Linked DNA regions of Homo sapiens: regions 2 and 3 are each linked to region 1. The links come from fine-mapping of genetic effects on gene expression. A gene starts in region 1. Each other region holds a variant in brackets. All regions are shown on one strand. Distances are from middle to middle.

Region 1 (8,176 bases):
CAGCACTTTGGGAGGCTAAGGCGGGCAGATCACTTGACGTCAGGAGTTCGAGACCAGCCTCGCCAACATGGTGAAACCTTGTCTCTACTAAAAATACAAAAATTAGCCAGGTATGGTGGTGGGCGCCTGTAATCCCAGCTACTAGGGAGGCTGAGGCAGGAGAATCGCTTGAACTCAGGAGGCAGAGGTTGCAGTGAGTTGAGAGCATCACACCATTGCACTCCAGCCTGGGCGACAGAGTGAGATTCTGTCTCAAAATAATAGTAACAATAATAATGTCCTCCAGGGAATTGTCTTCTCGTGTCCACACTGGCCCTAGGCTTGGCCACATGTGGTTTGGCCACCTGGACATTGGCACATATGAGCAGAGCAGAGGGAAGTATAAAAAGAGCCCCTGTATTGGTGCCTGCCTGGGCTGGCCTTCCGGAGGATGACAGAGCAGAGATGAGTCAGTCATCTCTGCCAAGACCCAAACACTTGAGTGAGCTCAGCTGATGCCTCATGAGACACAGGATGCTGTGACCCCAGCCGAAATGCCAACCGCAGAAATGCCAGCAAACAAAAGGCTGCCTTTTGAATCTACTAAGTTTGGGAAAGTGTGTCACACAGCAAAAGGTAACTGATATAGAGGTGGGTGTCCTCCTTAATACTTTTCTTTTTTCTTACTTTATCTATAGGGTAGCCTTCCACATGTATTTCTCTAGATTTTTATTTTATTTTTTATGTTTATTTATTTATTTTTTGAGACAGAGTCTCACTCTGTCGCCCAGGCTGGAATGCAGTGGTGCAATCTCAGCTCACTGCAACCTCCGCCTCCTGTGTTCCAGCAATTCTCCTGCCTCAGCCTCCCGAGTAGCGGGATTACGGGTACATGCCACCACGCCTGGCTAATTTTTGTATTTTTAGTAGAGACGGGGTTTCACCATGTTGGCCAGGCTGGTCTCGAACTCCTGAACTCAGGTAACCCGCCCACCTCAGCCTCCCAAAGTGCTGGGATTACAGGCATGAGCCACTGTGCCCGGCCATTTCTCTAGATTTTTAATAGCATTTTGTGAGGTTTCAAAAATATCCTGGGATTTTGCCTGGCAATAGAATAAATGTATATATTCATTTGGGAAGTAAATGAACTCTGGACTCAGGCCCAGTGACACATTTTCACCAGCAATACCACTATGACTCCACTAAGAGAACAACTGGAGTCTCCGCATGGCCTCTCCTGGCCGCTGCCCCATGCACCTCTTCTCTTGGTTAATTTTAATGAGCCTTTTCATGGTAATGAACCATAACCACGAGTACAATAGCTTCTAGGGAATTCTCTGAGTCCTTCTAATGAATTTCAAACTTGAGGGTGGTCTTGGGGCTGTCCCTAACTTTGTACTTGTATATTTAGTTTGCTAAAGATTATACCATGAAGGGGTGTTGAATTTTACTAGATGCTTCTACACTGAGATTTTCATACTTTTTTTCTCCTTCATTCTATTGTCATGAATCATGTTGACCTTGCAATGTGAAATCAACTGTACTCCAGTTCCTGGAGTACACCCAACTTGGTTGTGATGAGTTACCTTTTTTACATTATCATTGGATCTGATTTGCTAATATGTGGTTTGGAATTTTAAACAATGTTCATGAGAGAGAATACCATGTGTGTTTTCTCCCATCATGTCCCTTTCGAGTTTTAGTATCAAATTTGTTAGCCCTGTAGAACAAATTGGTAAGAAGAGTTCCCCTTTATCATTTGGAAGACTCTGTGTAAGACTGATGCTCTTTCTTCAATTTGAGTCTTTTTTTTAACGGATTCTAGTTCTCCTTGTCATCAATTTTCCTGAATACATTAGTTACTGAAAAATATGACTCCAATCTTGGTGTAACCATAGACTTCTATGTTTTTTCTGGTCCTATGTCCTAGCAAGCCTGTTAATATTTTATGACTACAGTTAACAGTAACTTACTGCATATTTTCTAATAGGTAGAGGAGAGGATTTTGAATGTTCCCAACACAAAAGAAATGATGTTTGAGGTGATGGATATGCTAACTACCTTGATGGATCATTATACTTTGTATATACATGTCAAAATATCACACCAAATCTCATCTTGAATTGTAGCTCCTATAATTCCCATGTCGTGGGAGGGACCCGGCAGGAGGTAACTGAATCATGGGGCAGGCTTTCCTGTTCTGTTCTCCGGATAGTGAATACATTTCCTGAGATCTGACGGTTTTATAAAGGGGAGCTCCCTGCACACGCTCTCTTGCCTGCCGCCGTGTAAGACGTCCCTTCGCTTTTCCTTTGTCTCCTGCCATGATTGCGAGTCCATTAAACCTCTTTTTCTTTATAAATTACCCAGTCTCGGGTATGTCTTTATTAGCAGCATGAGAATAGACTAATATGCTCTGGAAGATATTATCTTACTCCAGACATTATTTTAGATCTTTGCCAATTTGACCCGTGGCAAACAGCACTCCAGCATAGCTTTAATTTCCACTGCTCTTGTTCTGATTGGGGCTGAGCATCTATTCGCCTGTATAGGAGCATTTGTATTTTCTTTGCTCTGAACTGTGTTTATATTCTACGCCCACTTTTCTTTTCTTTTTTTAAGAGATGGGGTCTCACTCTGCTGCCCAGGCTGGAGTGCAGTGGTGCAATCATAGTTCACTGCAGCCTCCAACTCCTGGGCTCAAGGGATTCTCTCACCCCAGCCTCCTGAGTAGCTGGGATTACAGGTGGGTGCCACTATTTCCAAACCACTTTTCTTTGGTGATCTAGATTTCATTTGCATTTGCAGAATATCTGTATATTAAGGAATTTAACCTTTATGTGGGATACAGCCAGGAAAAACTTTTTTCCCCATTTGTCTTTTCACTTTGACATGCATAAACTTTAAATTCTCAGGTAGTCACCTTTATCAAGTCCCATTTTCTTTTACCTGGGCAGTAACCTAATGGGATTTTCTACTTCCAGCCTTCCTGCCACCTCCTCCAAATCTATTACCAACAGTGATTCTTGGTGGTTGTGGTGCCTCATGCCTGTAATCCCAGAACTTTGGGAGGCCAAGGTAGGAGGATCACTTAAGGCCAGGAGTTGGAGACCAGCCTGTGTAACAAGACAATACCCTGTCTCTACAAAATTACCAAAAAAAAAAAAAAAGTTAGCTTGGTGTAGTGGCACACTTCTGTAGTCCCAGCTACTTGGGAGGCTGAGGCGTGAGAATCACTCGAGCACAAGAGTTCGAGGATACAGTGAGCCATAATCACGCCACTGTTGTCCAGCCTGGGCGAAAGAGACCCCCTTTTTTTTTTTTTTAAATAAGAACAGTGATTCTTTTCAAGCACAATTCAGATTCCAGTTCCTTCTCTGCTGACCATGCCAGTAGTCTCCATCCCACTCCCAGAATAGCCCAAAAGTCCCTCCACCCCTCACACTTAAAACTTTCCCACGAGATCACAGGGTTCTTTCTCACTGCACTGAGACGTGCTCCTGCCTCCTGCCCCTGCCTCGGGCTTTGCCCCAGCCATTCCTCTCCTGAATTCTCGTCCACTCTTCCTTTTGGTGCTTTAAGACGCTCCTTATCCTAGAGACCTATGTGAGCAGCGCCCCCACGTCACTCCCAGGTTTCCCGACAGCATTTCAGCATTTACCACCGACCTTGGCGCATCCGCACCTGCGGATTGATCTGAGGATTCCCCCCCAACTTCCAGCACTTGGCTCTCAGCTGCAGCCACGCCTGCCGGGCCTGCTGCAGGCGCTCAGGGTATTACTTAAGTCAATGATTGCAGGTTCTCGCATCCTATTTAAAACCTTTTCCACTAAGAGATTTAAAACACGTGTCCCCTGCTTTGAACTTTCACGTTACATTTCTTACGTGTAAACCTAGGAAGCCTTTGGAGATAACCCCGGTCTCTGGAGAGGCTTGGATAGACCTCGGAGCCCAGACCGCCCGGGAATTGCCGTGCCCGGCTCCTCCCGACCCCGGCACGGATGCCTCGGCGGAGAAGTTGAGCCAGGCAGAAGCGAGAGAGTCCAAACCTCTGTTTGCCCCGCCACGCCCGCCCGAGGGCCCCACGTGGGCCCCAGGCGCAGGCGCGTTCAGTTCAGGGCCAGACGCGCGGAGACCTGGGAGCTGGCGGGGCGGGGCCGGACTGGGCGCGGGGAGACCTGGGAGCCGGCGGGGCGTGGGCGTGGCGGGGCCGGGCGCAGGGGCGGGGGCGGGGCAACCGAGGGCGCGCGCGAGCCCCAACGGCCGTCGCCGCAGCGCGGGAAGACGCGCCACAGATGCCCCGCCCGCGTGGGTTTGAACAAGAGGCCCCGCCCCCGGCCCGCGAGTGGCCAATCAGCGGGCGTAGCGCGCGGAGAGCGCAGCGTCGACCCTTTGTGGACGCCGAGTGGCGGTCGCTCGCCCCGCCCCGCGCCGTCGGGCGCTCCTTCCTCAGCGGCGGGAAGCTGGCGGCAGCGGCGGTGGCGGTGGCTGAGCAGAGGACCCGGCGGGCGGCCTCGCGGGTCAGGTGAGCGGGCCCGGCGGACCGCTAGGGCGTCTACGGCGGCGTGCACTTTTGTGCTGCAGGGCGCGGAGGAGCCTGGGGGCGGTGCGCGGAGTCTGTGGCTCCTGGCGCTGGGTCCGGGGCGGAGGCGGCGCCCGGGACCACCGCTGGGGCTGCCGCGGCGCCCTCGCCGCCCTCCTGGGCGCTGGTTCCCCCGCGGGGTGGCCGCTGCTGAGGGGGCCCGGGGAACAGAGGGGCCCGGGCCGCCGTCTGCGTTCCTTGCGGAGCGCGGAGCTGGGGCTTTGCCGAGGCCTGCGGGCGGCCCCACGCGGGAGCCGCTTCACGAGGGCCCGGCTGGGGTACGCAGCGGCGTTTCCCGTACCTCGGCTCTAGTTGCAGCGGAGGGAACGCCAGGCGCGCCGCAGCCCCCTCTGTCGGAGCCCGGCCGCGGAGAGGGCCGCGGATGTGGGAGGAGGCCCAGACCCCGGGCGGGTCGGCCAGCGCCGTCTTCCCTGGGCTCCTCCGGCGGTGCGAGGTGGGACTAGGGAAAGTCCCCGAGACACTTGCAGAAGTCAGACGCAAGCCTCCCTCCGCGTCTTCAGACGCTTCTCGCCCCGCAAACAGGATCGTCGTGGCAAAGGCTCCGACAGCTTGCTGGAATAGAGGGTCTCCGCTGCCTCGCTTCTCCTGTGGCCTTCGTGTGGGACGCACGGGACGGCGGGACCCAGATAACCGTTCTCTCAAAGCGAGCCACAGAAAAACATTGCCTGTTCACAAAACTTACGTTTTATCAACTTTCTACGTACAACCACTCTATTTTCAAGTGTCACCGTGTTTTATAATTAGGGTGGAAATCCAGAATACAAAGTGAGTTACACCCCTTTTCTAGGAAGAGTAGTAGGCTGTATCTTGGAAAAGGGGCTAGGAAGTTTCCCTCAACTTGCCACTGGAACATGTTTTCAGGGAAAAGAAGGAGTGTGTTTCGTTCCAAGTAACAAAAGTACCTGCAATTGGCTGGGCGCGGTAGCTCACACCTCCCAGCACTTTGAGAGGAGGCCTAGGCGGGTGGATCTCCTGAGGTCCCGAGTTCGAGACTAGCTGGCCAACGTGGTGAAACCCCGTCTGTACTAAAAATACAAAAATTAGCTGGGCGTGATGGCGCATGCCTGTAATCATAATCCTAGCTATGTGGGAGGCTGAGGCAGGAGAATCGCTTGAACCAGAAAGGCAGAGGTCTCAGCCGAGATCGTGCCATTGCACTCCAGCCTGGGCGACAGAGCGAGACTCCGTCTCAAAAAACAAAAAAAACCAAATACCTGAAATTAACATAACAGTAATTGTTCATGAACAGCCTCCAGGAGACTTGTAGTGGAAGGTGGAGCTCCCACTCAGTACTCAAGACTGCAGACCTTGCTCCTCTTCTCCCTGTTTTTCCGATAAAGTATTTCAAAGCTTATCTGATGTGTGAGGAATGGAAATTGTTGATGATTTGCTTAAAAACCCGAAACTTTGAAGTGGCTGCAAGTCCAGCTGTGAAGGTGACAGGTTAGGTCAGAGTTGAGTCTGTCCCCAACCGTCCCAGCCCTACTGATCAGAATCTGGGAATCTGCGTTTTCAGCCAGCCTCGTGGTATTGCTCAGCCACGAAGGTGTGGCCACTGCTGCTGTAGTGAAGGACCAGTCCCCGAGCTGTACTCTGCTTGCCTGAGCAGCACTGCGGGGCTGCTCCCTGCTGGCCTCTGCCTCGGTGGGCCTAGGTTGCTCTGTCCCTAGTGGCCTGTTGGCTGTTCCACCTGCCATGTCGGACATGTCCTCAGTCCGTCTGGCCCTCTTCGTTTTTCTCTGTCTGGTCGGTGCTTGGTTTAGAAGCCTGAGGGCAGTGCTGGGAGTTGACTGAGGGCTTGGCTGTCCCGGTAACAACCTGTGGAGTTGGTGGGATTTTAGGCATTTAACTAGATGTGTAGAAAGAGCTTCAAAACTGAGCAGGGGGCCAGGCATGGTGGCTCACGCCTGTAATCCAGCACTTTGGGAGGCCGAGATGGGCGGATTGCCTGAGTTCAGGAGTTCGAGATCAGCCTGGCCAACATGGTGAAACCCCGTCTCTACAAAAAATACAAAAATTAGCCGGGTGTGGTGGCGCGTGCCTGTAGTCCTAGCTACTCGGGAGGCTGAGGTAGGAGAATCGCTTGAACCTGGGAGGTGGAGGTTGCAGTGAGCTGAGATTGCATCACTGCACTCCAGCCTGGGGGACAGAATGAGACTCTGTCTTAAAAAAAAAAAAAAAAATTGAGCAGGGAGCTAGGCTCCACAGCCCCACCGGTATGGTATAGGGCCCTTTCTCATTCCATATTAGAAGGAGTTAAGCAGCCTCAGGCAGAAGTCACACAGGAGGCCCTCAGGGAGCTGGGCCCAGCCCAGGCATCCCTCGGGGCTGGTTAAGACCATGCTCTTGCTGACTTTGTCCCAAACACAGATATAACCCAATTCAGGGTGATCCTCACAGGCCAGCTTCTCCGGGCCCAACCTTATCCTCTTCACTCCTGAACACATGTTCTGGGTGACAGCTCTTTGGGGTCACGTGACTGTAAAAAGCACCTGTGAGCTTTACTCTTTTTTGTATTAATAGTAATAAACTTGTCAGCATTTTAAAATATTGGGTACAACACAGAATTAACAGCTGCTGGAGATTTGGAACATTGGAGAGGAATGATTTGAAGTGACTGAACAGGGATATTCTCCTGGTACCAGAATGGGATCTGTGCATGGGATGAGATGCAGTGGAGGATGATGGGGATTATCTCTCGTCCCTTGTAGAACTTGTGTAACCCAGGCACATCTATGCAGGTCCCTGGGTTACACAAGTCCTACAAGGGGCGAGAGAGAATCTCCATCATCCTGGAGGATTCTTTCTGGCCCCTTGTAGCATTTCCCACCCTGATGGTGGCTACCCTTCTGTGTTTTCACAACTTAGATTAGCTTTGCCTGTCCTGAAGGTTCAGATCAATAGAATCCTACGGTACATATTTTTGTGTGTGTCTTGCTGCTTTTATTCAGCATAATGTTTTGAAATTTATCCGTGTTGCATAAATCATTGAGGTATGTTGCTGAGTTGCATTCCTTTGTCAGAATACACCAGATCGTATACATTCAACTTGTTTTAAGTGTTTTTTTTGTGTGTGTGTGTTTTTTTTTTGAGACGGAGTCTCGCTCTGTTGTTCAGGCTGTAGTGCAGTGGTGCAATCTCTGCTCACTGCAACCTCCGCCTTCCAGGTTCAAGCAATTCTCCTGCCTCAGCCTCCCGAGTAGCTGGGACTACAGGCACGTGCCACCACACCTGACTAATCTTTTGTATTTTTAGTAGAGATGGGGTTTCATCGTGTTGGCCAGGATGGTCTCAATCTCCTGACCTGGTGATCCGCCTGCCTCAGCCTCCCAAAGTGCTGGGATTACAGGCATGAGCCACTGTGCCCGGGCTGTTTAAGTCCTAAAAGAATGCTTGTGGCTGGGTGTGATGGCTCACTCCTGTAATCCTAGCACTTTGGGAGGCCGAGGTGGGCAAATCACTTGATGTCAGGAGTTCGAGACCAGCCTGGCCAACATGGCGAAACCCCGGCTCTATTAAAAATACAAAAAACTAGCTGGGCGTGGTGGTGCACGCCTATAATCCCAGCTACTCGGGAAGTTGAGGGAAGATGAG
Region 2 (8,176 bases), 22 kb before region 1:
TGGGCGGAGGGCAGCAGGTTGAGTCCCTGCAGGACGGGCGCAGCTGGGGAGGTGGAGGTTACGGGCCTGCCTGGCTGCTCACCGCCCCGCGTCTGCTCTGGCAGTGAGAGAGGGTCACAGCATGGCTTTGTCATCAGCCACTGACCACTGACCACAGGCCCTGGCCCTGTCATCCAGCTTGTGCTGCTGGTGGGAGCTGCTGAGGTGGCCAGCGCTAGGGGCCGCCCTGTGTGGAGTCTGGGCTCACTCACTGTCTCTCTCACCATCGACCCCTTCCTCCGCCCCGCTTGACCTCACTCAGGCACTCCCTCCACGAGGTGCTCCTGGGGCACCCCAGGTAGTGAGGAGGCCACAGTGAAGGCCGCTGTGACCCACGCAGGGAGGCGGGAATGAGGAGGGGAGCCCCGAGGGCCACCCCTGCCTCCAGCACCATGCCCTGCCGCCCTGCCCTCCAGCCTCTAGCCACAGTTGCCTCTTCAGACAGGGTCCAGGAGGGGCAACACTGCTCTGCTCACTGCCCTGTCGTTACCTGAGTAACGGTGACAGGGAGAGAGGACCACACACCTCCTCGCCAGCTGGAGAGAAGCCCCCGGACCTATGGAACTGTTCTCCCAGGTCCTACTGTGACGAAGACACCTGCACACCAGGGGAAGGAGCAGTTCAGAAGCAGCACCTCAGGCTCTCCGGAAGGCCCTGTGTCCCGTCCACACCCGCTCCCCTCCGACCATCCCCACTCTGCCTGGCATGGCAGGGGCTGTGGATGCCTCACAGCGACAGCCCAGGGAGAGGCCGCATAGGCCAGGGAGGCAGGGAGAGTTTTGTTGGGAATTCTGGGATCCTACTGCCTGGAGTTGGGGCAGGGGAGCACAGCCCAAGGAGGTCACATCCTGGTGGCCCTGCAGCCTCCTGGCATGTGGGAGGACATGCCTGGAAGAGACAGCATGAGGGGGGACCACATATGGAGGACTTTTTTTTTCTTTTGAGACAGAGTCTTGCTCTGTCACCCAGGCTGAAGTGCCGTGGCATGATCTCAGCTCACGGCAGCCTCCACCTCCTGGTCCCCTGAATAGCTGGGACCACAGGCGTGCACCACCACACCCAGCTGGTTTTTTTTTTGTTAGGGACAGGGTTTCACCACATTGCCCAGGCTGGTCTTGAACTTCTGGACTCAAGCAATCTGCCTGCCTCAGCCTCCCAGAGTGCTGGGAGGGATTACAGGCATAGGCCACCACATCCATCCTTTTTTTTTTTTTTTTTTTGAGACAGGGTCTTGCTTTGTCACCCAGGCTGGAGTTGAGTGCAGTGGTGCAATCTCAGCTCACTGCAGCCTCTGCCTCCTGGGTTCAAGCGATCCTCACACCTCAGCCTCCTGAGTAGCTGGCATCACAGGCATGTGCCACCATGCCCAGCTGCCCAGCTAATTTTTACATTTTTTATAGGGACAGGGTCTCACTGTTGCTCAGATTGGTCTTGAACTCCTGGCCTCAAGCAATCTGCCTGCCTTGGCCTCCCAAGGTGCTGGGATCGCAGGAGTGAGCCAGCCCCCAGTGCTAGCAGTGCTCTTGGGTAATGAACGTGTGAATGAGAGCACACTGAATGGTCGCGTGGGGCGGCCACCCTCCTGAGGGACAGCTCACTATGGACAGGTGATACCACCACTTGGTACCTCCTTTCTTCATCCATAATTTGCGAATGGTGACAGTGACTGTCCCACAGGCCTGGTGGGGTATTAATTCAGATAGTACACGTCCCACACCTAAGATGAGCCTGGCACAAAGCAGCGCTCAAAAACACACATCTTCCTTTAACTTCCTCCTCGGTTCCCCCAATGGGGGATCTTGCAGGCAAAGTGTTGACGAAAGGTCCGCCCGTTCCCAAGAACGACCCTAGAGGGCGCCAGGCAGCGGGGCTTGAATGGACCGGGCGGGTTTCGCTTTCCCGCTAGTAGCCGCCCGCGGCCGCCAGGGGGCAGCAGCTGCAAAGGGCGCCCGTGGGCAGCCGGGCCGCGCCTGTGGCCACGCAGTGCAGAGGCGGCCCCATCCGAGCGCTCGGGCGGGCGGGAGCGGAGCCGGAGCAGTGTCCCCGCCACCGCGGAACCTTCGCAGGCGGAACATTTTGCACATCCTTCCAGACCTTTCCTAAATCCTTACCTGCCTGCACAGGCACTCGTGGAAAATACGCGATACTGCCTTGTGTGTATGCATTTATCCAGCTTTTTATTTTGAAATAATTCCCAATTTTGGGGCTGGGCGCAGTGGCTCACGCCTGTAATCCCAGCACTTTGGGAGACCGAGGCGGGCAGATCACGAGGTCAGGAGTTCGAGACCATCCTGGCCAACATGGTGAAACACCGTCTCTACTAAAAATACAAAAAAAAATTAGCTGGGCGTGGTGGCGTGTGCCTGTAATCCCAGCTACTCGGGAGGCTGAGGCAGGAGAATCGCTTGAACCAGGAAGTCAGAGGTTGCAGTGAGACTCCGTCTCAAAAAAAAAAAAAAAAAAAAAAAAAATCCCAATTTACAGAAGGTGGCAAACACCGTGCAAAGAGACCCGGATATTCCTGTCCTGCAGATTCGCCATCTGTGAACATTGCCCCGCTATTCCTTCTCTCGCTCCTGCTTATATGGCATTTGAGAATAAGCTGCAGACTCCAGGCTTGCTCCCCTAAACAGCTCAGAGAGTATTTTGGAAATAAACGAACTCTCTCCCAAGTAATTGCAGTGAACCTTGAAAAATCAGGAAGCCACCACTGATCCAATGTCCCCATCGACTCCGCAGAGCCCCTGCCAATTTCCCCGCTGTCTCAGTGAGTCTTTGTGGGTCTTATGGGTCTTTGTGGGATGGCCCTCGCTCTAGCCTTGCCTGTTTCCTGTGGCTTCTTCATTTCCAGGAGGAACCCCTCAGAAGTGAGACTTTCCTCTTACAGCAACCTACCGGAGGCCCACGGGGCCAATCTGGCCATCGCTGGTGATGATAACCCTCATCGCTTGGGTATGATGGTGTCTGCCGCCATTCCCCACTGAAAAGTTAATTAGTAAGCATTTTGCATTCATTAATGAATAAGCAATTATTACACCGTTTCTGGGGAGAGAATTTGAGGTTTCCACTATGAGGTCAGGCTTACCCTTCTCTCTCATGTGTGTATGTGCGGGTCTCCGTCCATTTTGTCTTGCTATAAAAGATTACTTGAGACTGCATAATTTATCAGAAAAAAAAGAGGTTTACTTAGCTCACAGTTCTACAAGCTGAGAAGTTCAAGGGCATGGCCCTGGTGAGGACTTTCATTCTGTGTCACAAAATGGTAGAGAAGGCAGGGCACAGTTGCTCACACCTGTAATCCCAGCACTTTGGGAGGCTGAGGTGGGTGGATCACCTGAGGTCGGGAGTTCAAGACCAGCCCGGCCAACATGGTGAAACCCCGTCTCTACTAATAATACAAAAATTAGCTGGGCGTGGTTGCACATGCTTGTAGTCCCAGCTACTCGGGAGGCTGAGGCAGGAGAATCGCTTGAACCCAGGAGGCAGAAGTTACAGTGAGCCGAGATCGCGCCGTTGTACTCCAGCCTGGGCGACAAGAGCAAAACTCCATCTCAAAAAATAATAATAATAATAATCCAAGATCTGGGCACTAGGGGTGCTCACTGTTTCCAGATCTGTAGAAAATACATATGCCTATACACACACACAT[A/G]GATATATACACACACATAGATATACATCTGTATTTCCAGCTATCCATATTGGAACTGGATTTGTACTGATATCTCCAATTTCAATCCACCCAGCCAGAAGTTGGTCCAGTCTGACCACTTTCCTAATTTGCAACTCCCTTCTCCGAAACGAGAGTCCTCAAATCCTTCATCCCCGATGCTTTTACTTATTTGTGCAATCCCCAGCCCTCTCCAACGTCTCTTTCTTGGCTCCTTGGCAGGTTAAAAGCTGGCCCTCAAGGAGGAGGGAAAGGGGAAGTAGGAAAAAGGAAGAAATGAATGGTCTGAGAGTTCCCTCTGTTTGCAAGTGAACAGTGAGCCTGCCAGTGTTCTGAACATGGGCAAGACATGAGACACCTGGGTCTGAGACAAAGACTTTGTTACTCACAGCACAGCAGGCAGCACGAGCTTCATATTCCCCCCAGCCCCCCAGCCCCACGGACAATGAGGAGTGGCTCCGGTGGATGCTGTACACACAGCTAAGGAACCCTGGGTTAGGAAACACCAGTCATTTAAAGGACTGCTAGCAAACCTGCCCAGTTTCTGCCCAGAGGGAGAAGCCATCTTTATTATCTTGGACAGCAAGCAAATTTGCCCTCTGCCTGGAGGGAGACACATGCATGACGCTGAGGATTCACGTGTGGACATTGGGACCCCAGGGCCTGAGCTGAGACCCCAGCACTGCCCTTTACTCTCTGGGACCTTGGACAAGTGACCCAACCTCTCTGTGCCTCGCTGTCCTCATCTGGAAAATGGAGACAATAACTGTATCCAGGTCACTGCTTTCTTAGGAAGATTAGCAAGACCAGTATACAACGTGCCAGGGTCATCTATGCTGGGAAGGGCTGAGTGGGCTGCAGACAGGGCCATGGATGGCCTCTCTGAGCAGGTGCTTTTGAGACCAGACCAGTGGAAGTGGGGAGCAACCTTGCAGCTGGTCTGGGTCAGGCGCAGGGCAAAAGCCCAGGGCAGGGAGCACTTCAGGTGCTCGAGAAGTGGTGAGAATCCACGGGGAGCAAGAGCCCAGGAAGCCAGGCATCGACAATGGAGTTCCCTCTGAGCACCTGAGACGGCTGTGCCGGGGACTCCTGAGCAGAGGCCAATGCAGCCAACTCGCATTTAAGGGCCCGCTGGCTGTCGTGGAAGTGCCTGGATACTCAGGAAGAGCTACAAGCATCTGGAGGCGGCCCAAGGGTGCAGGTGAGCCTCCGAACTGGGCAGCAGCGCGGGCGGTTGCAGGTGGGTAGATCCTGATGTGTGTGAAGGTGGAGCCGAGGACGCTGGCGGGCAGATGGGAGGTGGAGGTGAAAGAAAGAGGCTGCAGGAGGAACCCAGTGCTTCGGAGGAGCCTCAGGTAGCTGGTGGTCTTCCTCTCCTGTTACCACAAATTGCGTGGTTTCAAGCAGCCCACCTTTCTTAGCTTGCAGTCTGTGGGTCTCTGCTTACGCTGGAGTCAGGCGGCAGCTGGTCACGCTCTGGTCTGGAGCTCAGGGTCCCCTTCCAAGCTCGCTCCTGTCGCTGGGAAGCCGGGTGTGGGACTGAGGAGGTCCCTGCCTCCTTGTGGTGTCACTGATGGCTGCTCCCTGCTTCTGGGGGGTGCTCATGTTCCTTCTCACGCCCCCCGCCCTGTCTTCAAACCAGCATCCGCACCTTGAAGCCTTCCCAGGCTTGGACCTCCCTGACTCCCCCTCCTGTCACCAGCCACAGAAAACTGTCCTCTTTTCAAGGCTCCCGGGACTAGGTCAGGCCCACTTGGGAATTAGCGTTAAGCTCCACTCTGCCGTGTAAACTCGCCCGACCTTGGGAGTGGCACCTCCGCAGAGGCACCAGTTCCAGGGGCTGGCGCAGGGGAATCTGGGAGAGCACATGTTCTTAGAATTCGGCCTAAACTGGGGTGCTTAAAATAAGGGCACGGCTGACACGCAGTGGCCTCCTGGTTCTTTTGGTGCAGGGTGGATGGCGTTTAATCCAGGACTGGAGAGGCGCCTGGGGAGTAGGCGGTGACAGAGGGGCGGTGTGAGGGCTGGGATCCGGAGCCCTGCAACACTGGGAGGGGGCGGAGAGGAGGGATGCACAGAGGCTCACGAGGAGGGGCTGGTGGGAAGAGCAAGTGCAAGGGTTGGGCAGGGCAGGGCAGGGCCCACAAAGTTTGGCCCAAGGCCCCCAGTGGCTTGGAGAGGAGAGGAGGGTGGAGGACGGCTGGCAAGCCCATAGGTACATAAAGGCCTCAGGAGGCCAGCATGGTGACTCATGACTGTAATCCCAGCACTTTGGGAAGCTGCAGTGAAAAGATCGCCTGAGTCCAGGAGTTCAAGACTAGCCTGGGCAACATAGGAAAATCCTGCCTCTACCAAAAATACAAAAATTAGCTGGGCATGGTGGTGTGCGCTTGTTGTCCCAGCTGCTCGGGAGGCTGAGGTGGGAGGATGGATTGAGCCCGGGAGATTGAGGCTGCAGTGAGCCATGATCACACCACTGGTGGAGAAAGAGTGCACCCCAGGAGTTTGAGACCAAGAACAGCAAAGTAACTGTGGCCACGGGGGTGTGGGAAGGTTTTGGGGTATTTGCTAGTATGAAAGGAAAATATGGGGACCCCAAAATCACTAAGCCAAAGTGAAAAGTCAAACTGGGAACTGCTGGCAGGCAGACCTCCCTCCAATCCTATTTGTAAACAAGACAGCTACAAAGATTAAAAAGCTACATACCTCCCACACAAATTGCCCACAAGGAAATTCCTTGTGATGTGTTACCCGTGGAAGGTGCTCCCCACTCCCTGCTTCGAGTTGTCCCACCTTTTTGGAACAAACCAATGTGTTTCTGTTTCTTTTTTTTTTTTTTTTTGAGACAGAGTCTCACTCTGTCGCCCAGGCTGGAGTGCAGTGGTGCAATCTCAGCTCACTGCAACCTCTGCCTCCCGGGTTCAAGCGATTCTCCTGCCTCAGCCTCCCAAGTAGCTGGGATTACAGGCGCCTGCCATCATGCCCAGCTAATTTTTGTATTTTTGTAGAGACAGGGTTTCACCATGTTGGCCAGGCTGGCCTTGAACTCCTGACCTCAGGTGATCCACCCACCTCGGACTCCCAAAGTGCTGGAATTACAGGCGTGAGCCACCGTGCGCGGCCTTATGTATTTCTTTCTTTCTTTCTTTTTTGAGATGGAGTCTCGCTCTGTTGCCCAGGCTGGAGTGCAGTGGCACGGTCTCGGCTCACTGCAACCTCCGACTTCCTGGTTCAAGCGATTCTCCTACCTCAGCCTCCCGAGTAGCTGGGATTACAGGCGCCCGCCACCATGCCCGGCTAATTTTTGTATTTTTAGTAGAGACAGGGTTTCACCGTGTTAGCCAGGATGGTCTCGATCTCCTGACCTTGTGATCTGCCCACCTCGGCCTCCCAAAGTGCTGGGATTACAGGCGTGAGCCACCGCACCCGGCTGGCCTTATGTATTTCTTAAATGTGTTTGATTGATGTCTGTGTCTCCCTAAATTGTATAAAACCAAGCTGCACCCCAGCCACCTTGGGCACATGTTCTCAGGACCTCCTGACGGCTGTGTCACAGGCCATGGTCACTCATATTTGGCTCAAAATAAATCTCTTCAAATGTTTTACAGAGTTTGATTCTTTCCATTGACATGTTACTGGTGAAAGGTATCTGAGTTACTGGCAGTGAATCCGTACAGGTCTGTGGCAACCTCAATTCTTGCCTCCTCAGAAGAATTCGACCAATGGGCATAAGCAGAAGGAGAAACTGAGGTAAGTTTCAGAGCAGGGGTGAATGTTTATTAAAGAACTTTGGAACAGGAATGAAGGGAAGGAAAGCACACGTGGAAGAGGGCCAGGTGGGCGACTTGAGAAACCAAGTGCACGACAATCTATACAATTTTTCTTTTCTTTTTTTGAGACGGAGTCTCGCTCTGTCACCCAGGCTGGAGTGCAGTGGTGGGATCTTGGCTCACTGCAACCTCTCCCTCCTAGGCTCAAGCGATTCTCCTGCCTCAGCCTCCTAAGTAGCTGGGATTACAGTTGCACGCCACCACGCCCAGCTAATTTTTTTGTATTTTTAGTAGAGATGGGGTTTCATCATGTTGGCCAGGCTGGTCTTGAACTCCTGACCTCAAGTGATCCGCCCACCTCGGTCCTCCCAAAGTGCTGGGATTACAGGCATGAGCCACTGCACCTAGCCCAATCTATACAATTTTAATCATGTTGAGTATAAAATACAATTTCCATAAGCCTTTTATAACCTTTTATTAAGGACTGGGTTAATACTCCAAGAAAACCTTGTTAATCCGACACAGAGGCCCATATGCTGGGCTTACATCAGTGTGCCTTCAACATTAATGGTTAACTTATCTCTCAAAATCACCCCTTACAATCCACACACCCGCCTCTTCCGCGATAGTCCCTGGGCCTTCAGGAACTGAACTGTTTTAACTGGTTTTGGTTTGATTTCTGGCCTGTGTCTCAGGAACG
Region 3 (8,176 bases), 23 kb after region 1:
CACCACTGCACTCCAGCCTGGGTGACAGAGTGAGACTCTGTCTCAAAAAAAAAAAATTAATTTTTAAATTGACAAAAATTGTATATCATGTACAACATGTTTTGAAATATGTGTACACTGTGAAACAGCTAAGTCGAGCTAATTAATATGCACTGCCACACATACTTGTCACTTTTTGGGGTGAGAACACTTAAATCTACTCTCTTAGTGGTTTTATTATTATTTTTTTGAGACGGAGTCTTGCTCTGCCGCCCAGGCTGGAGTGCAGTCGTGCAATCTTGGCTCACTGCAACCTCCACCTCCCAGGTACAAGCGATTCTCCTGCCTCGGCCTCCTGAGTAGCTGGGACTACAGGCATGTGCCACCACGCCGGGCTAATTTTTGTATTATTAGTAAAGATGGGGTTTCATCATGTTGGCCAGGCTGGTCTCGAGAACTCCTGACCTCGTGATCCACCCGCCTCAGCCTCCCAAAGTACTGGGATTACAGGCGTGAGCCACCGTAGCCAGTCTCTCCTAGTGGTTTTCAAGAATGTAATCCATTGTTACTGATTACGGTCCCTGCGTACAAGAGATCCCCGAGCTCATTCCTTGCAACTGAAATTTTGCATCTTTTGGCCACCATCTCCCCAGCCAGCCCTCAGCCCCCGGCAACCACCAGTCTACTCTGCGTCTGTGAACTCCCCTTTCTTTTTTGAGACAGGGTCTTGCTCTTACCCACGCTGGAGTGCAGTGGCGCAAACATGGCTCACTGCAGCCTCAATCTCTTGGGTTGAGTTTTGCTTTTTTTTTTTTTGAGACAGAGTCTCGCTCTGTCACCCAGACTGGAGTGCAGGGATTACGATCTTGGCTCGACGCAACCTCCGCCTCCCGGGTCCAAGTGATTCTCCTGCCTCAGCCTCCTGAGTAGTTGGGATTACAGGCACGCACCATCACGCCCGGCTAATTTTTGTATTTTAGTGGAGACGGGGTTTCACTATGTTGGTCAGGCTGGTGTCAAACTCCTGACCTCAAGTCATCTGCCCAGCTTGGCCTCCCAGAGTCCTGGGATCACAGCCGTGAGCCACCATGCCCAGCCTTTATTTTATTTTATTTATTTATTTAGAGACAGAGTCTCGCTCTGTTGCCAGGCTGGACTGCAGTGGCCCGATCTTGGCTCACTGCAACCTATGCCTCCTGGGTTCAAGCAATTCTCCTGCCTCAGCCTCCCGAGTAGCTGGGACTACAGGCACACACCACCATGCCCAGCCAATTTTTGTTTTAGTAGAGACGGGGTTTTACCATGTTGGCCAGGAGGGTCTCGAACTCCTGACCTCAGGTGATCCGCCTGCCTCGGCCTCCCAAAATGCTTAGATTACAGGCGTGAGCCACCATGTCAGGCCCCGGCCTTTATTTTATATTTGTGTAGAGATGAGGTATCACTCTGTTGCCCAGGCTGGTTTCAAACTCCTGGACTCACGTGATCCTCTTGCCTTGGCCTCCCAAAGTGCTGGGATTACAGGCATGAGCCACCACACCTGGCGAGTTTGACTTTTTGGGTTCCACGTATGAGTGAGATCACGTGGGGTTTGTCTTTCTGTACCAGCTTATTTCGCTTAGCATAAATGCTTCAGGTTCATCTAGACAGTTGCAAATGAGAGGATTTCATTTTTTTTTTTTTTTTTTTTTTACAGCTGAATAGTATCCCATTGTGCGTATGTACCACATTTTCTTTATCCATTCATCTGTTGTTGGACACCTAGGTTGGTTCCATAGCTTGGCTATGGTGACTAGTGCTGCAATAAACATGGGGGTGCGGGTATCTCTTCAACATACTGATTTCCTTTCCATTGGATAAATACCCAGTAGTGGGATTGCTAGATGATATGGTAGTTCTATTTTTAACTTTTTCAGACACCTCCATACTGTTTTCCATAGCGGCGGTACTACTTTACACTCCCACCAACAGTGCACAAGCATTCCCATTTCTCTACACCATCACCGACATTTCATCTGTTTAGAATAGCCATCCTAACAGGTGTGAGGGGGTATCTTATTGCAGTCTTGATTTGCATTTCCCTGATGATTACTGATATGGAGCATTGGTTTTGTATAGCTGTTGGTCATTTGTGTGTGTGTATATATATAAAAATAGATATATATATATTTTTGGAAAATGTCTGCTTGGCTGGACGCGGTGGCTCACGCCTGTAATCCCAGCACTTTGGGAGGCCGAGGCAGGTGGATCACCTGAGGTCAGGAGTTCGAGACCAGCCTGGCCAACATGGTGAAACCCTGTCTCTACTAAAAATACAAAAATTAGCCGGGCATGGTGGCGGGCGCCTGTAGTCCCAGCTACTCGGGAGGCTGAGGCAGGACAATCACTTGTACTCAGGAGGCAGAGTTTGCAGTGAGCTAACATTGCACCATTGCACCCCAGCCTGGGCGACACAGCAAAAAAAAAAAAGAAAGAAAGAAAGAAAAAATGTCTGTTCAGGTCCTTTTCCTATTTTTTCAATCAGGTTATCTGGGTTTTCTTCCTGTTACGTTGTTTGAGTTCCTTATGTATTTTGGATATTAACCCCTTATCAGACATATGGTTTCCAAATATTTTCTCCGATTTCCGAGGCTGTCTCCTGGCTGTGTTGGGCAGAGGCTGCCTGCTTTTCCTCGCTGTGTGTTATTCGAAGTTGTCTCTACATTTGGTTTGTTTGAATCAGGAGTCATGCGAGAGCTGCACATCACATGCTCTTACGTCTTCACTTAGGACCATCCCTTTTTCCTAGTGTTCTGCCATTTTCCATTTTGTTGATTTTGGCACTCAGTTTTATTTCCTTCTTTCTGCTTACTTTTGGTTTAATTTGCTCTTTTTCTTGCACATTAACATGAAATCTTAGGTGGTTTTGTACTTTTCTTACTTTCTAATATAAACATTTAAAGCTATAAATTTCCTTCTATGCACTGCATTCACTCAGATTTTGATCAGTGCCATTTTCATTATTCAGTTTCAATTACTAAGTTTCCAGTGACCTCTATGGACCCACTGGTTATCTGGACATGTGTTGTTTTCATGACCTCCTGCTGTGTAGCTGCCATCACTAGCTTCACAGCATGCAGCACCTACCATCTGTTACTGCCATGATCTCATGCCACGGCTTGGCTGGGCTCAGCCGGGTGGTTCTTGCTGGGATCTGTCAGGCCACTGCTGTCAGGCAGCAGCTGCAGCTGGATGCACCCCACCCTGAAGGCTTCCCTCCTCCCAGGGCTGGCATGCTGGCCGGAAAGCTCCAGCAGCTGGGTCCTTGGGCATCTTGTCAGCATCTCTGTGGGATCACTGCAGACATTTCTCCAGCATAGAGGCTTCAGGGTGGCCAGGTTTTTTGCATGATGGCCAAAGCCTCTGAAGGCCATGTCCCTGGCCTCTGATGTGGCTGACGGCTCAGTTATCTGCTTGGAGAGAGCTCCACGTCCACTAGAAAGAATGAGGGCTTTGCAGTGTCACTCAGGTCAGGTGATGGTCACGTTCCTTCAGGGCCTCTAGGAATCAAAGGCCAGGACAGATTTACACATTCAAGAAGTTTATTTGGGGAAATACTTATGAAGGACAAAAGGGTTAGAAAGCAGGAGCAGGCAGAGGAAAGCTGTCAGCCTCAATGCAAGCCTGGCATCTGTGGGAGGAAGGGCCTTTGCCACACCCATGGGCCCTGGATAGAGTGTCCATCTGAGGCCGAGGTGGGCAGAAACGGCTGGCTCTGCACCACTCTCTACTCAGCACTGACTGCAGACAGCTGGGAAGCGGCAGTAGCTGGCTGGGAGAGGGGCTTCCCTCTTGGGTCTGGTCCTCCATCAGTGTTATTTGGCACAGGAGCCCAGCATGGCACGATGGGCCCCAGCATGCCCCGTGTTTGCACTGGCTCTGCTCCTGAGCCACTCCAGTAGGGTGCTCCTGGGGGCACCTGTCCTGCCAGCTGTCCCTGCAGACCAGCTCCAGCTCAGCTCCTTTGCCTAGGCCTGTTCCTATATAGCCACACTCACTGTGAAAGGCCTGCGTCTCAGCCTGGGAGGGCAGGGGGCCTTGGCCAGGCCTTAATTCCTCACTGTACCTCACCGCCAACCCAGAGAAGCTGCTTTCCCGCACCTGCTACTTCAGGGCCTATTAAGT[AAGTC/C]TTTATTGAAAAACAAAAAACAAAAAGAGAGGCCAAGGCAGGAAGACTGCTTGAGCTCAGGAGTTCAAAACCAGCACGGCAACATCGTAAGACCCTGTCTCTAACCCAAGCCAAACCAAACCAAGACCCTTTTAGTAGTTAACCAACTTTTACTACTTAATTCTTTTTTTTTTTTTAAGAGATAGGGTCTTACTCTGTTGCCCAGGCTGGAGTGCAGTGGTGTGATCACAGCTCACTGCAGCCTCCAACTCCTGGGCTCAAGCAATCCTCCCACCTCAGCCTCCTGAGTAGCTGGGACTGCAGGTGAGCGCCACCACACCAGGCTAATTTTTTTTTTTTACTTTTTTGTAGAGATGGGGGTCTCACTATGTTGCCCAGCCTGGTCTCAAACTCCCGGCCTCAAGCAATCCTTCCACCTTGGCCTCTCAAAGTGCTGGGATTACAGGTATGAACCACATACCGGGCCTAGTAATTCTTTACATTTTTTCCTCTTCAGATAACTGGTGTGGTTTCTGTATCCTGGCTGATAATGCCTTCATTTTTAAAGAATATTTTTTTCTTTTCTTTCTTTCTTTATTTTTTTGAGATAGAGTCTCACTCTGTTGCCCAGACTGGAGTGCAATGGCGTGATCTCGGCTCACTGCAACCTTCCCCTCCCAGGTTCAAGTAAGTCTCTTGTCTCAGCCTCCCAAGTAGCTGGGATTACAGGCATGCGCCACCACGCCTGGCTAATTTTTGTACTTTTAGTAGAGATGGGGTTTCTCCGTGTTGGCCAGGCTGGTCTCAAACTCCTGATCTCAGGTGATCCACCTGCATCAGCCTCCCAAAGTGCTGGGATTACAGGTGTGAGCCCCTGTGACCAGCCTAAAGAATATTTCAATGTATGTGAACTTCTAAGTTGACCTTCCTTTTCCCTTCAGCACCGCAGATGTGGGTGCGTGCGTGGCCTTCTGGTGGGAAGTGAGCCATTGTTCCTATCGTTGCTTCTCTATATGAATCTCCTGTTTCCATCCTAGCTGCCTTTAAGGCCTGTAGGATGTGTTCAGGTACGGTTTTCTCCACGTCACCTCCTTGCAGTTACAGAGATTCTTGGATTTGTGGATTATTTTCTTTCATGAATTTCAGAAAGTTCTTAGTGATTCGGTCTTGGAATATTTCTTCTTTATTCTCTCCTGTTCCTGCTCTGGGACTCCAGTTACACCCAGTTAGGCCATCTGACTTTGGCCCACAGATCTTGGACCCTCTGTCGTCTTCCCTCCCCTCTCTGTGTTTGGATCTTCTTTAGTGACCAATCTTCAAGTTAACTGATCCATTCCTCTGTGATGTCCAGTCTGCTGTTAAACCCATCTAAAGATCATTTATATACTGTATTTTTCATTTGCAGCATCTTCATTCTGTCTTTTACTGAAGTGTCCCTGTTTCTGCTGAACATCCCTATCTCTTGGTGAATGTCACCCGCCATTTCCACAGGCCCTCCCCACCTCCCCAGAGTTCCTTCAAAGCCCTTGACTTCAGTTTTACCACTGGGGCTGACTCTGCTTCTACTGCTCACTGTGGCTCACGTTTTCTTGCCTTTTCATGTGTCTTGTAATGTCTTACTGCAGGCTAGACAGTTCATATAAAAGAACAATCGAGGCTGAAGCAAACAACGTTTAGTTCCACAGAGGGGCACGTGCCTTCCACTGTGAGGTTGCCAGAGTGGGAACAGAGTTGTCCTTCCCGGTAGTTGAGCTAGCTCTGGACTTCTCTGCAGCTGTAGTTAGGCCTTCAGACGCCCTGAGGGTGGCATCAGGGCATGGCTTCGGTGGGGTCTGAGCTTTGAGCACAGTGATTCTGGACATCAGCCTGTGTGTCGCAGCCAAGCCACTGGCTTTGGGGGCTGCATGATTTCTCCGTTCTTCAGCCGGACTGCCGTCCTTTTTGGCCACTGGAGGCTTCCTTTGCTCTCCATTCCAGCCCCTCGCCTTGCGCCCGGGGTGTCTTGCAGCCTCTTCCTCAGCCTTTGGGGGCTTGCCTCCCGCCCACTGTCCCAGCTCCCCTGCTGGGCCTCCAGACTTTGGGAACAAAAATCCCAGCATATCTGTGAGAGGGGCGTTCTCGAGGGAGTGTCCGTCAGCTCCCTGCCCCCACTCCCAGCTTTTGGCACTTTCTTCCTGAGCACTCAGTGTGGACCTGAGGGAGGCCAGGGAGCTTTGGACTTGCCTGTTGCAGGGTCCTCCAGACCCTGGGGGCTTGGCAGCCGCACTAGTGGACAAGTGGTTTGCATGTACGTCGCCTGGTCCCTCCTTACCTGACTCTGAGGGGCCTCTTCCTCTCACTCCCCTCTGGGGACGAGAGCAGCAGGGCCTCTCTTCTCTAGTGGGTGCCACAGAAGTCAGGTTTGGAACCTGTTGCTTCTGAGGTTCCTGTGAGGCCACAGGGAAGTCAGAAGAAAGGCTTGGCCTTCTGAGGTCTGTGGGTCACCAACATCCAGCCAGGTGAGGAGCAAGGGCCACCATGGGTGACACCATGATGCCATGGCACAGTCTGAACCCGAATCTTGGAGTGGGAGGAGCAGGATGGAGTATTTTGGCTTGTTAAAGTCTAACTTTTAAAGGTTAGGAAACCAGGGCATCTCCTGGAGGGGCTCTGCTGGCAGGGCCCAAAAGACAGTGCCTTTGAAGGAAGCTGTGTGTTAGAAAAACAGTCTCTAAATTCCCACTTTCCCCTGGCTGAAAATGAAAAATAAAGGCAGCTTTCCAAACCATGTGGTACCCAGAAACAAACAAACAAAAAGGAATTCTCCTCATCACAGACCTAGAGCCACGTGCAACATGGTGCTGGCTATGCAGCTGGGTGGCCGAGGCCAGGGTTTGTGCAGGGACATCTGCTTCCTCCTCCCTCATGATGGAAACTCCTGCCCATCACTGTGCACATCGCACTGATACCACAGTGACATGGAGGCTATGGTCCCCTGTGTGGCCTTGGCAGGAAAAGAGACAGCCAGGGTGGCTGCTTGCTTAAGACTTCAGGCCTCCCCTGGGGACAGGATTTCAGGTATCAGTCCCCCCAGCTGATGAACCAGTGACAACAGGCTTATCCAGGTGGTTTTATTTAGTAAAATTTTACAAAAGTCAGGGCTGACTTCTTGGCTCTGCCCTTCGAAGAGCACAGTTTTCCTTAGCAGATAACTGGGGGAAGCCACGGGCCCACCAGAGGCTCTCGCAGGCCAGTGGTGCGACCTCCTGTCCACAACCGTGAGGGACAAAGGCCTGTCCTTGAGGCTGCTGGGCAGGGGCCCAGGCAGTAAGTGAGGGCACCTGCGAGGCTCTGAGGACACAGCACATCTGTACACCCTCATGGTGCCCTGACCACACAGCAGCCAGGGCAGAGTGTGACAGACAGAGGGTTTCTGAGCGGTCTCAACAGCTGTCTCTCTGGTGACGTTTCAGTGCCTTCCCCTTTTCCTCTGAACTCATGGATTTGGCCACAAGTTGCTCCCCCTGGACTAAGCAGCCCAGAAGCCATGCCCAGGGTCCATCCCTGGGCAACCCCCCACCAGGTGCCAGCAGCATTCACATGGGGCAGGGGGCCCATGAGTGCCACCTGGACCCCGACAGCCTGTCATGGCATCCAGAAACCTCTGTCTCCCCTTGGCTCTGCCAAGGACACATCCTCCATCTCCTGGTCAGACCCGAGACAAGCCCAGAACACAGGACAGGTCCTGTTGGAGAGATCCCAGGAATGGGCCTGGGGTCTGGAAAACAGCTCCACAGACAGCTCTGGTTTCCACATCAACCCAGCCAGGAAGAAAATGAAAAATTCCTCATAAAGGTACAAAGTCCTCCTGATTTTAGCAAACGTCGCTATTAAAGAGTGTCAGTTTGAGCTTGCGTGGAGTGAACATCCTTTTCCTTGGAATAGTGATGTGCTGGCCACCTCCGCATGAGGGGGTCTTCAGGAAGCGGCTGCATGTCATCAGCCTCCCCTGTTTGCTGCCAGGCGGCCCCGAGAGCTGAGATGAGAGGACAGCAGTCAGGCGCGCGCACCCCG

Which allele goes with the higher level. Positions count from the first base shown, and alleles are read on the strand shown. Sizes are in standard deviations (SD) of each study's normalised expression. Not every link is listed here.
For the expression in monocytes after R848 of the gene that starts at base 4,420 in region 1, A is the high allele of the variant in region 2 and G is the other (moderate effect, 0.69 SD a copy in Quach 2016).

What was found. PIP is the estimated chance that this variant, and not a neighbour inherited with it, causes the effect.
Region 2: its variant is fine-mapped to the expression of CDCA4 in monocytes after R848 (Quach 2016, PIP 0.95).
Region 3: its variant is fine-mapped to the expression of CDCA4 in blood mononuclear cells (TOPMed, PIP above 0.99).

What each region holds. Positions count from the first base shown.
Region 1 is chr14:105,017,327-105,025,502 of GRCh38, reverse strand. CDCA4 (cell division cycle associated 4) reads left to right here and starts at 4,420. Exons shown (of 2, transcript NM_017955.4): 1 at 4,420-4,504. RefSeq lists enhancers at 3,625-3,684, 3,700-4,213, 4,728-5,243, 5,695-6,355 and silencers at 3,985-4,054, 4,085-4,974, 4,985-5,074.
Region 2 is chr14:105,039,651-105,047,826 of GRCh38, reverse strand. All of the region lies in intron 1 of LOC124903398 (a long non-coding RNA gene), which reads right to left. Among named protein-coding and RNA genes, the nearest start is that of GPR132, 22 kb to the left of the region's middle. RefSeq lists an enhancer at 242-341 and a silencer at 1,877-2,136. The variant A/G (reference allele first, on the strand shown) is at 3,689.
Region 3 is chr14:104,994,560-105,002,735 of GRCh38, reverse strand. It overlaps CLBA1 (clathrin binding box of aftiphilin containing 1), which reads right to left. Exons shown (of 5, transcript NM_174891.4): 5 at 7,220-8,138. The coding sequence ends at 7,977. Among named protein-coding and RNA genes, the nearest start is that of CLBA1, 13 kb to the right of the region's middle. The variant AAGTC/C (reference allele first, on the strand shown) is at 4,141.